Homo sapiens: one gene and its partner. The protein of the gene in region 1 purifies or fractionates together with the protein of each later gene. This does not show direct contact. Each region holds a gene or a part of one and is shown on either strand. Other genes may lie near its edges.

Region 1 (7,302 bases):
GAATAGTGTGGTGTGGGAAGGCCTTTCTCAGAAGGTAATTCTTCAGCAGAGACTTGAATGATAGGAGGGAGCTGTCACCATTTGAAGAGCCAGGGAACAGTGTCCCTGACAGAGGGACCAGCAAGTGCAAAAACTTGGTGCATCCAAAGAACAAGGGGTACTGACTTATTGGGAGAACAACAGGCAATGAAGCTGGTAGGCCATCATAAGGAATTAGAATTTCTAAAAAGTGCAAATGGCCATGAAGGGATGAATGATGTTGGTATTGCAGGATGTGCCAAATGTTCTTGCTGGATTTGCCATGTCACCTGAAGTCATAGTTTGTGCATACTAAAGTGTGCAAAAAAATATACCAGACAACCTCTTTGATTTGGATTACAAGAATTATACTGTGGACAGAAACTACTTGAAGATTGATTTTTGCCATTCGGTATGAAGGAAGGGTTTGACAAGGGCTTACTAGTAGTAGAAACCAGGGGGGAGTTTGGCTAGGTAAATCTTTTAGGAGAAGAATGAGTGTTAAAAATCTTCTGCAGCATTTTAGTCTATCCATCTCTAGGAGCCAAGTGGTTTGTTCATTATGAGTCCTACCTATTTCTTAAAACAGTACCCTATTAACCAACCCTTGCAGCTACTTTGTTAACCAGGTTTAAGTTACAGAATGGACTTGAAAGAAATTGTACTAACAGCATTTTTGGATGACTCCCCTCTCCCCAGTGTGTATAACTAGGAAGGTTGGGGCTGATGTGCAGTCATCTCACTATGGGTGATGAAACTGATCACACTGCACCAAGCAAGCAAGGGCCCCACAATGAGACATTTGGAGCAATGGCCACTTTAGCACATTCACCTTCTGACTCTGAATGGGGTTTATTCAGCCAAAGGGTGTCAGCCTGGGAATTTCCTGGGGCATATTACCATTACAGGGTTGGGCTGAAATTAGTCCCTGTCTAGGATATATTATCTGAAGAGAGTCCAGAAATGAGGTTGATGGATGGATGCAGAATTGAGAGATCAATGGAAAAAAGTGTGAAAAAACTGGGGGTACCAGCCTAAGCAACAGAAACCTGGATGAGCTGAAAACTCCATGCCTGCATCAGCCCATTGGACTTTGTCCTACGTTTTAAGTTTCTTTGCCCTAATTAGCAGTGTGCTATTCAGAACAAGTCAACCTCTTTGTACTTTGCTCAATTTTTTTATCTATACATTTCTCATCTGTGTATTAAAGCAATCATTCTGAAACCATGTTTCAGCATCGGCACATTTTCAAAAAAATTTTCACTAAAAATTATGGTGTCTTGGGGTGATAAGCATTCTTATTTAGGGTCAGGTTCTGAATTTCCAACTCCTGAGGCACCTCTGAGTAACATCTAGAGATTCTGATCCACTGGGTTTGGGCTAGGGCCCAGGAATCTGCCATTTGAACAAGACTCTGAGATGATTTTTATTCAGGTGTTTTGGGGATCATGCTTTGGGAATGTCTACTCTAAGATTCTCTGGAACAACCTTTGAAAAGCTCTGAATTAGCTGATTTGCAAGCAGCCTTCTTGCTCTGACAACCTGTGAATATATCAGCACATGATAAAGACAAAGCTAGGTGTCACATTTCTACCAAGGGCAGAAGAGGAAAAGAAAGGGATTAAATCAGAGGTCAAAAATAGACAAGCAAAAGATGTGTTTTGCTTGGTCTACATGGCATTTTTTAAATTCAAGAAGTTCAACTCTTAATTTTTGACGTCTTTTTTAAAAAAATCAGAAAATGTGCCAATTCTGATCCCTCATTTTCATGTGCCATACTTTGGTTGGAGTCAAATCATAGCTGTCTCCTTAAGACAGAACTGTTTATCTCATTTTCCACAATCCTCCCCAATCCCAATAGTGTCACACCTCCTGCACTCCATTCATTTACATCCTGCATCTTGGCATTTGAGTCTACAACTCTTAGTTGTAGCATTTGAGTTTGGTACAACAAAGGGTCCATCTTGAAAATCCTTCTCCACTACAAAGGTTGGGAAATTTCAGTTCTTTAAAAATAGGACAGGCCTAATAAGCCTCAGGTAGACTTGATGCACTTCTGGAGGTAGCACATGAATCCTAATGCAAGGAGTCTGTAATTTCTAGAGGCAGGTTGGTTTGTTTGCTGTCTGTGGGCTTTGTCATTCACTGTGCTGTGCTCACCATTTCTTGTAGGTGTGCTGATGTGGGAAGTTTTCAGTGAAGGCAAAATCCCGTATGAAAACCGAAGCAACTCAGAGGTGGTGGAAGACATCAGTACCGGATTTCGGTTGTACAAGCCCCGGCTGGCCTCCACACACGTCTACCAGATTATGAATCACTGCTGGAAAGAGGTCAGTGGAGGAAGTGCTTCCCCATGCATTGTCGTATACAATTTGAGGACCTCCCTCCTTCCCTAGAGAAAGGAACCCTCTCAGAAGGATGAGGCAGGAGGGATAACTAATATAGATTAGCAACAACATGACTTTGAGGATCTGTTAACGGGATAGATCCCCCATCCCTAAAGGAGCTGAAGGCGACCTTAAATATTATTTGGTTTGCTACATAATGTCACAAGCTATAAGCATAGCTTCAGAGAGGAGGATGGGGTGTGGCCTATGCCAGCTTCCTTCTCGATTTTCTGAGAAGAGAAAAAAAGTCTGTAACATCATAAAACCATTAAAAGCACAGGAAGTTAGTTCTATAACTTGGGGAACAAAGTTCACTTGCACTATGAAAATATTAAAATGGCTTAATTTGAGTTCATTTTATTCATTCTGCATTTAAAATGGGGAGCCAATTCCTCTGTACCCGCCCAGGTGGCTCATTTACCCCAACCTTGGATTGCAGGCCATGGCTTGAGCCCCATCACTATGAGTCTTAGTCTTTGCTGTCTTTGCTGAGTTAGAAAATCATACATTTCAGCCAAAGTGGAAAGTTGCTGAAACAGAGAATTAATAAAAATTCTGATCATTGTACGACAACAAGGTGGAATACAAAAAATTTGGAACACTAGGATTTTGTCTCAGCTTTACCATTTATTTGCCATTAATCTTTGACAATTCTCTGAACTTCCTTTTTCTTACTGTTAAGAGAATTAAATAATGCTTGGTCTGTGAGTTCATAGAGCTTTTATAATCAGAAACAAAGAAACAATAGAGACATAAAGGAGGGCATAAAACAAATCTTATCCACTTCATAAGGATTAGCTACAATAATAATAATGATGGCTGACATTCAGTTGGCACTTTTTCCCTCTTTTAACCATCATTTATTGATTTTTTTAAATTAATAGTCTTTATTTTTTAACAAAGAGTACAGAGTTCTCATATGCCCACCTCACCTGAACAGTTTCCCTGTTCACTAACATTTGGCATGAGTGTGATACATTTGTTACAATTAGTGAACCTCTATTCATACATTAACTAAAGTTCATAGTTTACATTAAGGTTCAGTCTTTGTGCTGTAGAGTTCTGTAGGTTTTCACAAATTCATGTATCCATCATTATAGTATCAGACAGAATAGTTTTACTGCACTAAAAATCTCCTGTGCTTCACCCATTTATCCCTCTCCTCATCCCCAAACCACTGGCAACTACTGATCTTTTCACTGTCTTCATAGTTTTGCCTTTCTCAGAATGCCATATATTGGCATCATACAGCATGTAGGCTTTTCGGACTGGTTTCTTTCATTTAGTAATATGCTTTAAGGTCCCTCCATGTCTTTTCGTGGCTTAATAGCTCATTTCTTTTTGTTGCCAAATAATATTCCATTGTATGGATATATCATAGTTTATTTATTTACCTACCAAAGGAAATCTTGGTTGTTTTCAGTTTTTGTGTTTGTTTGTTTGGGTTTGTGGGGTTTTGTTTTTTTTTTTGAGATGGGGTCTTACTCTGTTACCCAGGCTGGAGTGCAGTGGTGCAATCTCAGCTCACTGCAACCTCTGCCTCCCAGTCTCAAGCGATCCTCCTACCTCAGCCTCCCAAGTAGCTGGGACCACAGACATGTGCCACTAGGCCCAGCTAATTTTTTGTATTTTTGGTAGAAACAGGGTTTTGCCATGCTGCCCAGGTGAGTTCAGGCAATCAATCCACCTCAGGCCTCCCGTAGTGCTGGGATTATAAGTGTGAGTGCTCAGGCAGACTGGTTTCCTTCACTTAGTAATATGCCTTTAAGGTCCCTCCATGTCTTTTTGGCTTGATAGCTCATTTCTTTTTATTGCTAAATAATATTCCATTGTATGGATATGCCACAGTTTGTTTATCTATTTACCTGCCAAAGGAAATCTTGCTTGCTTTCAGTTTTAAACAATTATGAATACAGCTGCTATAAATGTTTATGTGCAGATTTTTGTATATAAATTTTCAACTCAATTGGGTAAATGCCTAAGAGTATGCTTGCTGAATCATATGGTAAGACTATGTTTAACTTTTTAAGAAACTGCCAGAATGTCTTCCAAAGTAGCTGTATTATTTTACATTCCCACCAGCAATGAGAGTTCCTTATTAGCATTCATTGTTTTGGATTTCAGTGGTTCTAATAGATGTGTAGTCATATTACATTGTTGTTTTAACTTGCATTTTCCTAATGACATATGATGTTAAGAACATTTTCATATGCTTATTTGCCACCTGTATATCTTCTTGGTAATATCTATTCAGATCTTTTGCCCATTTCTCAATCAGGTTGTTTGTTTACTTATTGTTGAGTTTTAAGAGTTCTTTGTATATTTTGGATACAAGTCCTTTATCAGATATGTGTTTTGCAAAATTTTCTCCTAGTCTGTGGCATGTCTTCTCATTCTCTTGACAGTGTCTTTCACAGAGAAGACTTTTCAAATATTTTAACAAAGCTCAACATCAACTTATTTATTCATGAATTGTGCTTTTGATTTACATCTAAAAACTCATTGCCAAGCCCAATGTCACCCAAATTTTCTCCTATGTTACTTTTTATTTTATGGAAGTTTTATAATTTTGCATTTTACATTTAGGTCTATGATCCACTTTGAGTTAATTTTCCTGAAAGGTGTCAGGTCTGTGACTAGAGTCATTGTTTTACATATGGATGTCCAATTATTACAGCCCTGTTTGTTGAAAAGACTATACCCTTTCTCCTCTGTTCCTTTGTTAAATGTTAGTTTACTATATTTATATGGATCTATATCTGGGCTGATCCATTAATCTGTTTGTTTATTCTTTCACTAGCACCATCCTCTCCCATTACTGTAGCTTTAGAGTAAGTCCTAAAGTCAGGTAGGGTCAGTCTTCTAGCTTTGTTGTTCTTCTTCATTATTGTATTGGCTCTCTGGGTCTTTTGCCTCTCCGTATAAATGTTACAGTCAGTTTGTCAATATCTAAAAAAAATAACTTGCTGAATTTTTATTAGGATTATATTGAATCTATAAGTCAAGTTGGGAAGAACTAATATTTTAACACTATAGTGTCTTCCTGTCCATGAACATGGAATATCTGTCCATTTATTTAGATCTTCTTTGCTTTCTTTTATTAGAATTTTTAATTTTTTCTCATTTAGATCATGTAGATATTTTCTGAGATTTATACCCAGATATTTCATTTTTTGGTGTTCTTTAGCATTAATTTCTTGATATATTTTTATATGTGATTTATTGAATTCTCAAAACAATTTCATGAGGTAGATACTATTATTATCTCCATTTTACAAATGACAAAACTGAGGTTCAAAGAGGTTAAATAACCTGCTGAATGTCACACAGCTAATTAGTGGTAAAACTGAGATTAAACACTAGTCCCTTGGATTCCAGAATACCTGCTGTTAACAACTAGGACAATGTATATGGAATACAGTCAACATGGAAGCACATACAAAAATCCACAGGGGATGCTGCTATTAAATTCTGGTTTGTTTTGGATTTACCTATGACGCATAAGTACAAGGAACTTACAGAGTTCTTTTTTCCCTCTCCAGAGACCAGAAGATCGGCCAGCCTTCTCCAGACTGCTGCGTCAACTGGCTGAAATTGCAGAATCAGGACTTTAGTAGAGACTGAGTACCAGGCCACGGGCTGCAGATCCTGAATGGAGGAAGGATATGTCCTCATTCCATAGAGCATTAGAAGCTGCCACCAGCCCAGGACCCTCCAGAGGCAGCCTGGCCTGTGGCATCAGTCCCTGAGTCACCATGGAAGCAGCATCCTGACCACAGCTGGCAGTCAAGCCACAGCTGGAGGGTCAGCCACCAAGCTGGGAGCTGAGCCAGAACAGGAGTGATGTCTCTGCCCTTCCTCTAGCCTCTTGTCACATGTGGTGCACAAACCTCAACCTGACAGCTTTCAGACAGCATTCTTGCACTTCTTAGCAACAGAGAGAGACATGAGTAAGACCCAGATTGCTATTTTTATTGTTATTTTTAACATGAATCTAAAGTTTATGGTTCCAGGGACTTTTTATTTGACCCAACAACACAGTATCCCAGGATATGGAGGCAAGGGGAACAAAGAGCATGAGTCTTTTTCCAAGAAAACTGGTGAGTTAAGTAAGATTAGAGTGAGTGTGCTCTGTTGCTGTGATGCTGTCAGCCACAGCTTCCTGCCGTAGAGAATGATAGAGCAGCTGCTCACACAGGAGGCCGGATATTCTGAGAAGCAGCTTTATGAGGTTTTACAGAGTATGCTGCTACCTCTCTCCTTGAAGGGAGCATGGCGAGACCCATTGGATGGATTGGGGTGAACAGTTCAGGTCCCATGCTTGGAGCATTGGGTATCTGATGTCTGCACCAGAACAAGAGAACCTCTGACGGTGGAGAACCATGTGGTGCAAGAAGAGATCTTAGGTCTCTTCTTTTATACCAAGCTCATCTTTTATACCAAGCTGTGCAGGTGACTATGCCTCCTCTTCTGCACAGAATGCTTCCACCAGCATCCTGAGAAGAAATGATTACTTCTGAAAAACATCCTTTTTTCCAGCCTCTGGGAATCAGCCCCCCCTCTCTGCACTATCCGATCCTCATCAACAGAGGGCAGCATTGTGTTGGTCAATGTTCCCTTGGCGAGCAATTGAAACTTGTTTAGGCCCTAGGGTTGAGCAATTTTAAGGTTGAGACTCCAAGTCTCCTAAAATTCTAGGAGAGAAATAAAGAGTCTGTTTTTGCTCAAACCATCAGGATGGAAACAGTCAGGCACTGACTGGGGTGCTTCCAAGAGGCATGAGAGTGCCTACTCTGGCTTGAGCACTTCTATATGCAAGGTGAATATGTACTGAGCTAGGAGACTTCCCTGCAAAATCTCTGTTCACCCTGGGTTCACATCCCCATGAGGTAATATT
Region 2 (4,492 bases), on another chromosome or scaffold:
AATGTTGAAATACTGGGGTTGTGGAAAAGACATTTAAAAATACACCGCCCAGTGAGTGGCAGGTGACCACTGAAATTTATGGCAGCGCTTTAGGGAAAAACAAACAAACAAAAAAACCTACTGGCTTTCTGACTTAAAAGTAATGCACTACTCAATATAAAGCAAAGATAGTATGATATGCTTCACAGCAGATTTTCACTCATCCATTCAAGTCTTTCTGTATGGTTCAAGGGGTGGATATTAGTCTATCCACACTAGTACAGAACAGACTAAAACATTTTAACAACACTGAAAGACTAGGACCAATCATTCCTAAAACGACTTTCCTATAGTTCCTCCCACTAAATTTTAAGTCATCCATTCCTTTGAGATGCAGTATTTCAGCATTATTGTAACAACATTTTATACAAAGAGATTTTCTAAACTTTATAGGGAGCTGGATCTGTAAACAGGAAGAAAGCTTCTACCAATGCATATTTGGTTTAAATAATACCAAAAAATGATTATTTCAGAGATTTATTGCAAGTTAATTGTCTGTGAAGCTGGATATTCCTTAACATGAAGGTAATAAACTTTAACGTTCCACTCAAAAAGACAAAAACCAAACAACGAAAAATAAGAAATTAACCAGAAAGCTATAGCTTGTTTTCTTACTCAGAAAAAAAGTATAACTGATAAGGTACAATTTCTGTAACTGGATATTTTTCAAAATTATAAGGCTTTTAGTTCTAAAAGTATAAAGAACTGTGATGCACTTCTAGTCAACCTAATCTTGCTAGAAGCTTTATCAACACTGACAGTCTCAATACTTTCTCTTTTGCTATTATATAGTCAACTTTAAAGGTAATTCCTTAAAGTAAATTTGTGTGTTCCTAAAAATATGGACTAAAGTTGAATGGGCAAAGGTATACATCGCATTTTCTGGGGGAGTAGGGGAGAAGTCATTCCCAAAAAGTGAAATATTTAAACAATTTTATTCTTTCTTTCACAACTAAACACACCTTGAGGCTGAGGAACATGTGATTTGCCATATGATTTCCAACCTTTTCTTATCCATTATGTTTTAACACTTGTTTTCCCTACTTTTAGTCATTTTTACAAACTGAAGGTAAAGATACAGTAACTACATGAGTAGTGAGTACATGAATTTTTCTATATAAAGAAAGTGTGACTCTACTAAAATTGAAGTTTTGACTCACAGACACTGCTACAATGAGATAACTTGAGATATTGTCTTTGGTATATAATGGGCAATTATGGGGTATTAATTTATGAAACTGAATATAGAAAAGTAAAGAATTGCCTACTTTTCTATATTCCATTTCACATACTGATACCCCTTAATTGAGTAGAGCTGAAAGAAAATTCAGAAATCATTAAATCAAAACTTAATTCCTACATATAAAGAATGCGGCACAGACTTGGCTAAAATCACACTTCTCATAGATGCTTCAGCAAGAATCAGAGTTTGGGGCCAATAATTCCAGGTCAATTATTCCTTACACTATACACTACTCATTATTTGGAAATTTCTCTCCCAACAAATCTTTGTTACAATTATTAAAAGAAAAATGTTCACATTCTGTTTTCTAATCTCTCTTCCTAGTTCATGTTCTGTTGAATAAAAGACAGTTACACTTCAGAAGTACAAAAGGTTGGGATCAAATAAATAGACAATTTAAAGTAGATAAAATCAAGATCTGATCATAGTCCTTTCCTCTATTCCTGAAATTCACTGATTTCAATACTGATTCTTAGATATTTGTCACCTACCTTTCGGACTTGTAGACAATGCTGTGGCAACAGATCTCAAGATGTAGATTTTAATGCCAAAGTATGGGTCCATTTGAGCACTTTGCCTTTATGGCTACTGAAATCATGAAATCAATTTCTCTCAAAGATTTTACTCTCAGTGAGGTCACATACATAGTTCTTAATCAGTGAAAATTATAGGCAGCTTTCTATTTATCCTTTAAAGGAAATATGTCTTAGATGGAAAGAATATAAAGTAGTAAAGCAAAAGTTAACCTAGGGGAAATTTTTTCACCAACAGATTATCTAGACATCAATTCATAATGCACTGGGAGATCTATAGTATATACCACATGGTATATTTAGGGTACACAGCTCTATAGGATTTGAGATGGCTGCTCACAGCAGGAGCTTAAAGAAAGATATGGAAAAAATATATTTTATAAAAGATGGAAAAATTCAAGTTGTAAGGAGTAAAAATGAAAATTTGAAAAGTTAACGCATATTTGTTTTTATTTATAGGTAACTACCACATGAATTATAAAGACAACAAAGGATGTCAGAATGAACATGGATAGGTGTATGCATACTACGGCTAAGGAGAAACAATGTTCCTACATATTATGGGTAGTGAGAACATTATCTGTATAACAGGGAACTGTGATTATTTAAAAATATGCAGAACTTATTTCATCTGTGCTTTAGAAATAACTGTATACAGTGTTATAAGTTGAAAAGAACTCAAAATAACTAATACCAAATATACACCTATGTATTAGAATTCAAAAAAGCTGCTTTCTGTGAAGTCAATCAGCTATATTAAAAAATGACACAAATCCAAAACAAGATGCATGTTATATATAAAGGGACATTGTAAGTTTCCTTGCTGCATTAAACCCATGGTTTAATCCATGAAATTTCCTTTTAATTATCATTTAGACAGAAGCATGCAAATAGTCTCAGGATCTACTTAAGAACCTTTCCCAAATCCACTAGTTACACTCCCCTTTTCAGGAACTAAGCAGGTATTCGGGTAGCTGCTTCCTCCTCTGCATCAGCTCGGTTTGCATTAATTTCTGCAAGTGTTCGGCCAAACCGTGCCCATTCATCATTGCGGGGAACAGCAATCTGCTGTTAAAAGAAAGACAATGTTTTATATACAATGAAATAAAAGATCATTTTACCCACTATTATTCAGTTTGTTTTCAAATAATTTTTCTGTTAAAAAGTAATAATTGACCTGAATGGCCTTTCCATAATTACGGGGACTATAACAATGATTTACAACATTTCAAAACAAAAGACGGTGTTTGTGAAGTGTGTTGTGACAGCCTCAGAAATGACTTGGCTATTATCACCACCAATGCAAGAGAGAATAACAATGATGCTTTGTAAATATAACTCCTATGCACCATCTCATGGATTTTGCTGGAGAGGAATTCCTTAAAATTTTTTTTTTACTGTATTCTTGCAAAATTCCTAGTAAGAAACAGTGTTTGAAGCATGGTTCATAAGGGGGCTCGTTTCTTGTAAGTATTTTTCTTTGGAACATAAGGTAATCTTTCTTGATACCTTAACTCCTTCATCAAAAGCTGTGCTACTATTTACCACTTTAGTGCTGCACTGGTGGCAAAAGAGCCTTGTGATGCTTTACTTCAGAGGCAGCCCAATAACATATATATATATATATATATATATAATTTTTTTTTTTTTTTGAGACAGTCCCACTCTGTTGCCCAGGCTGGAGTGCAGTGGCACTATCTTGGCTCACTGTAACCTCTGCCTCCCAGGTTCAAGTGATTCTCCTGCCTCAGCCTCCCCAGTAGCTGGGATTACAGGTATGTGCCACCATGCCTGGCTAATTTTTGTATTTTCAGTAGAGATGGGGTTTTGCCATGTTGGCCAGGCTGGTCTCGAACTCCTGACCTCAGGTGATCCACCCGCCTCATCCTCCCAAAGTGCTGGGATTACAGGTGTGAGCCACTGCGCCCGGCCCCAATAACAAATATTTTTGATAACTGCCATTATAATATCATAGGAGTCTGACACTGTCATGTTAGGGCACAAACCACTCACTGTGGCAAATGGCTGTGCCTGTTTATAAATCTACACTATCCAGTAGGGTAGCTACTGGCCACATGTGACTGTGTATATTAAAATTAATTAAAATTAAAAATTCAGTTACGCAGTTGTAGTAGCAACACTTAGAGTGTTCAATAGCCATATGTGGCTAGAAGCTACCATATTAGTGCAGGTACAGAACATTTCCATTTGTGCAGATAGTTTAATTGGCTGCTGTAAATGATTAAATCTACCTCCCACCAGATCCAATTGCTAGAGGCCATGGGATATCCAGAGAGGAGAGAAATCATGAGGCATAGCAAAGGAAAGTGACTAAGGTCACTTTTTTAACCCCTAGCCAGGGTTAAAAAAGAGGAAATCCATCCTGGGCTTTGTGTTCAGCCAATCAGAGCAGCAAAGATGAGAGAGCTGCAGCTCATCCTATTGGATTCCATTACTGTGGCTTTGCATCAAGGCTTAAGAGTCAAGATGCACATTGCATAAAGTCACAGATGGTTCTCAAAAGATACTACTTTTGGTTTCTACTACCTGGCCCAAATTAATGAATACAGAAAAATAAATCTTATTTCAATATCAATAAAACCCCAAAGTCCACCTATAACTCCAAACTTCTCCCCAAAGAATTTCTAATTTCCAGCAATGCATGCTTCAAGAAACA

The links.
Region 2: the proteins of ITK (region 1) and DYNC1I2 purify together in Homo sapiens (affinity purification with mass spectrometry; 2 studies listed by BioGRID and IntAct, with this or other methods). This does not show direct contact.

The regions. Positions count from the first base shown.
Region 1 is NC_000005.10:157,246,660-157,253,961, forward strand, and holds part of ITK (tyrosine-protein kinase ITK/TSK), read left to right. Parts: intron 1-2,190; coding exon 2,191-2,348; intron 2,349-5,947; coding exon 5,948-6,019; 3' UTR 6,020-7,302. UniProt on the Homo sapiens protein: Tyrosine kinase that plays an essential role in regulation of the adaptive immune response. Regulates the development, function and differentiation of conventional T-cells and nonconventional NKT-cells.
Region 2 is NC_000002.12:171,746,167-171,750,658, reverse strand, and holds the end of DYNC1I2 (cytoplasmic dynein 1 intermediate chain 2), read right to left. Parts: intron 2,884-4,492; coding exon 2,770-2,883; 3' UTR 501-2,769; downstream 1-500. UniProt on the Homo sapiens protein: Acts as one of several non-catalytic accessory components of the cytoplasmic dynein 1 complex that are thought to be involved in linking dynein to cargos and to adapter proteins that regulate dynein function.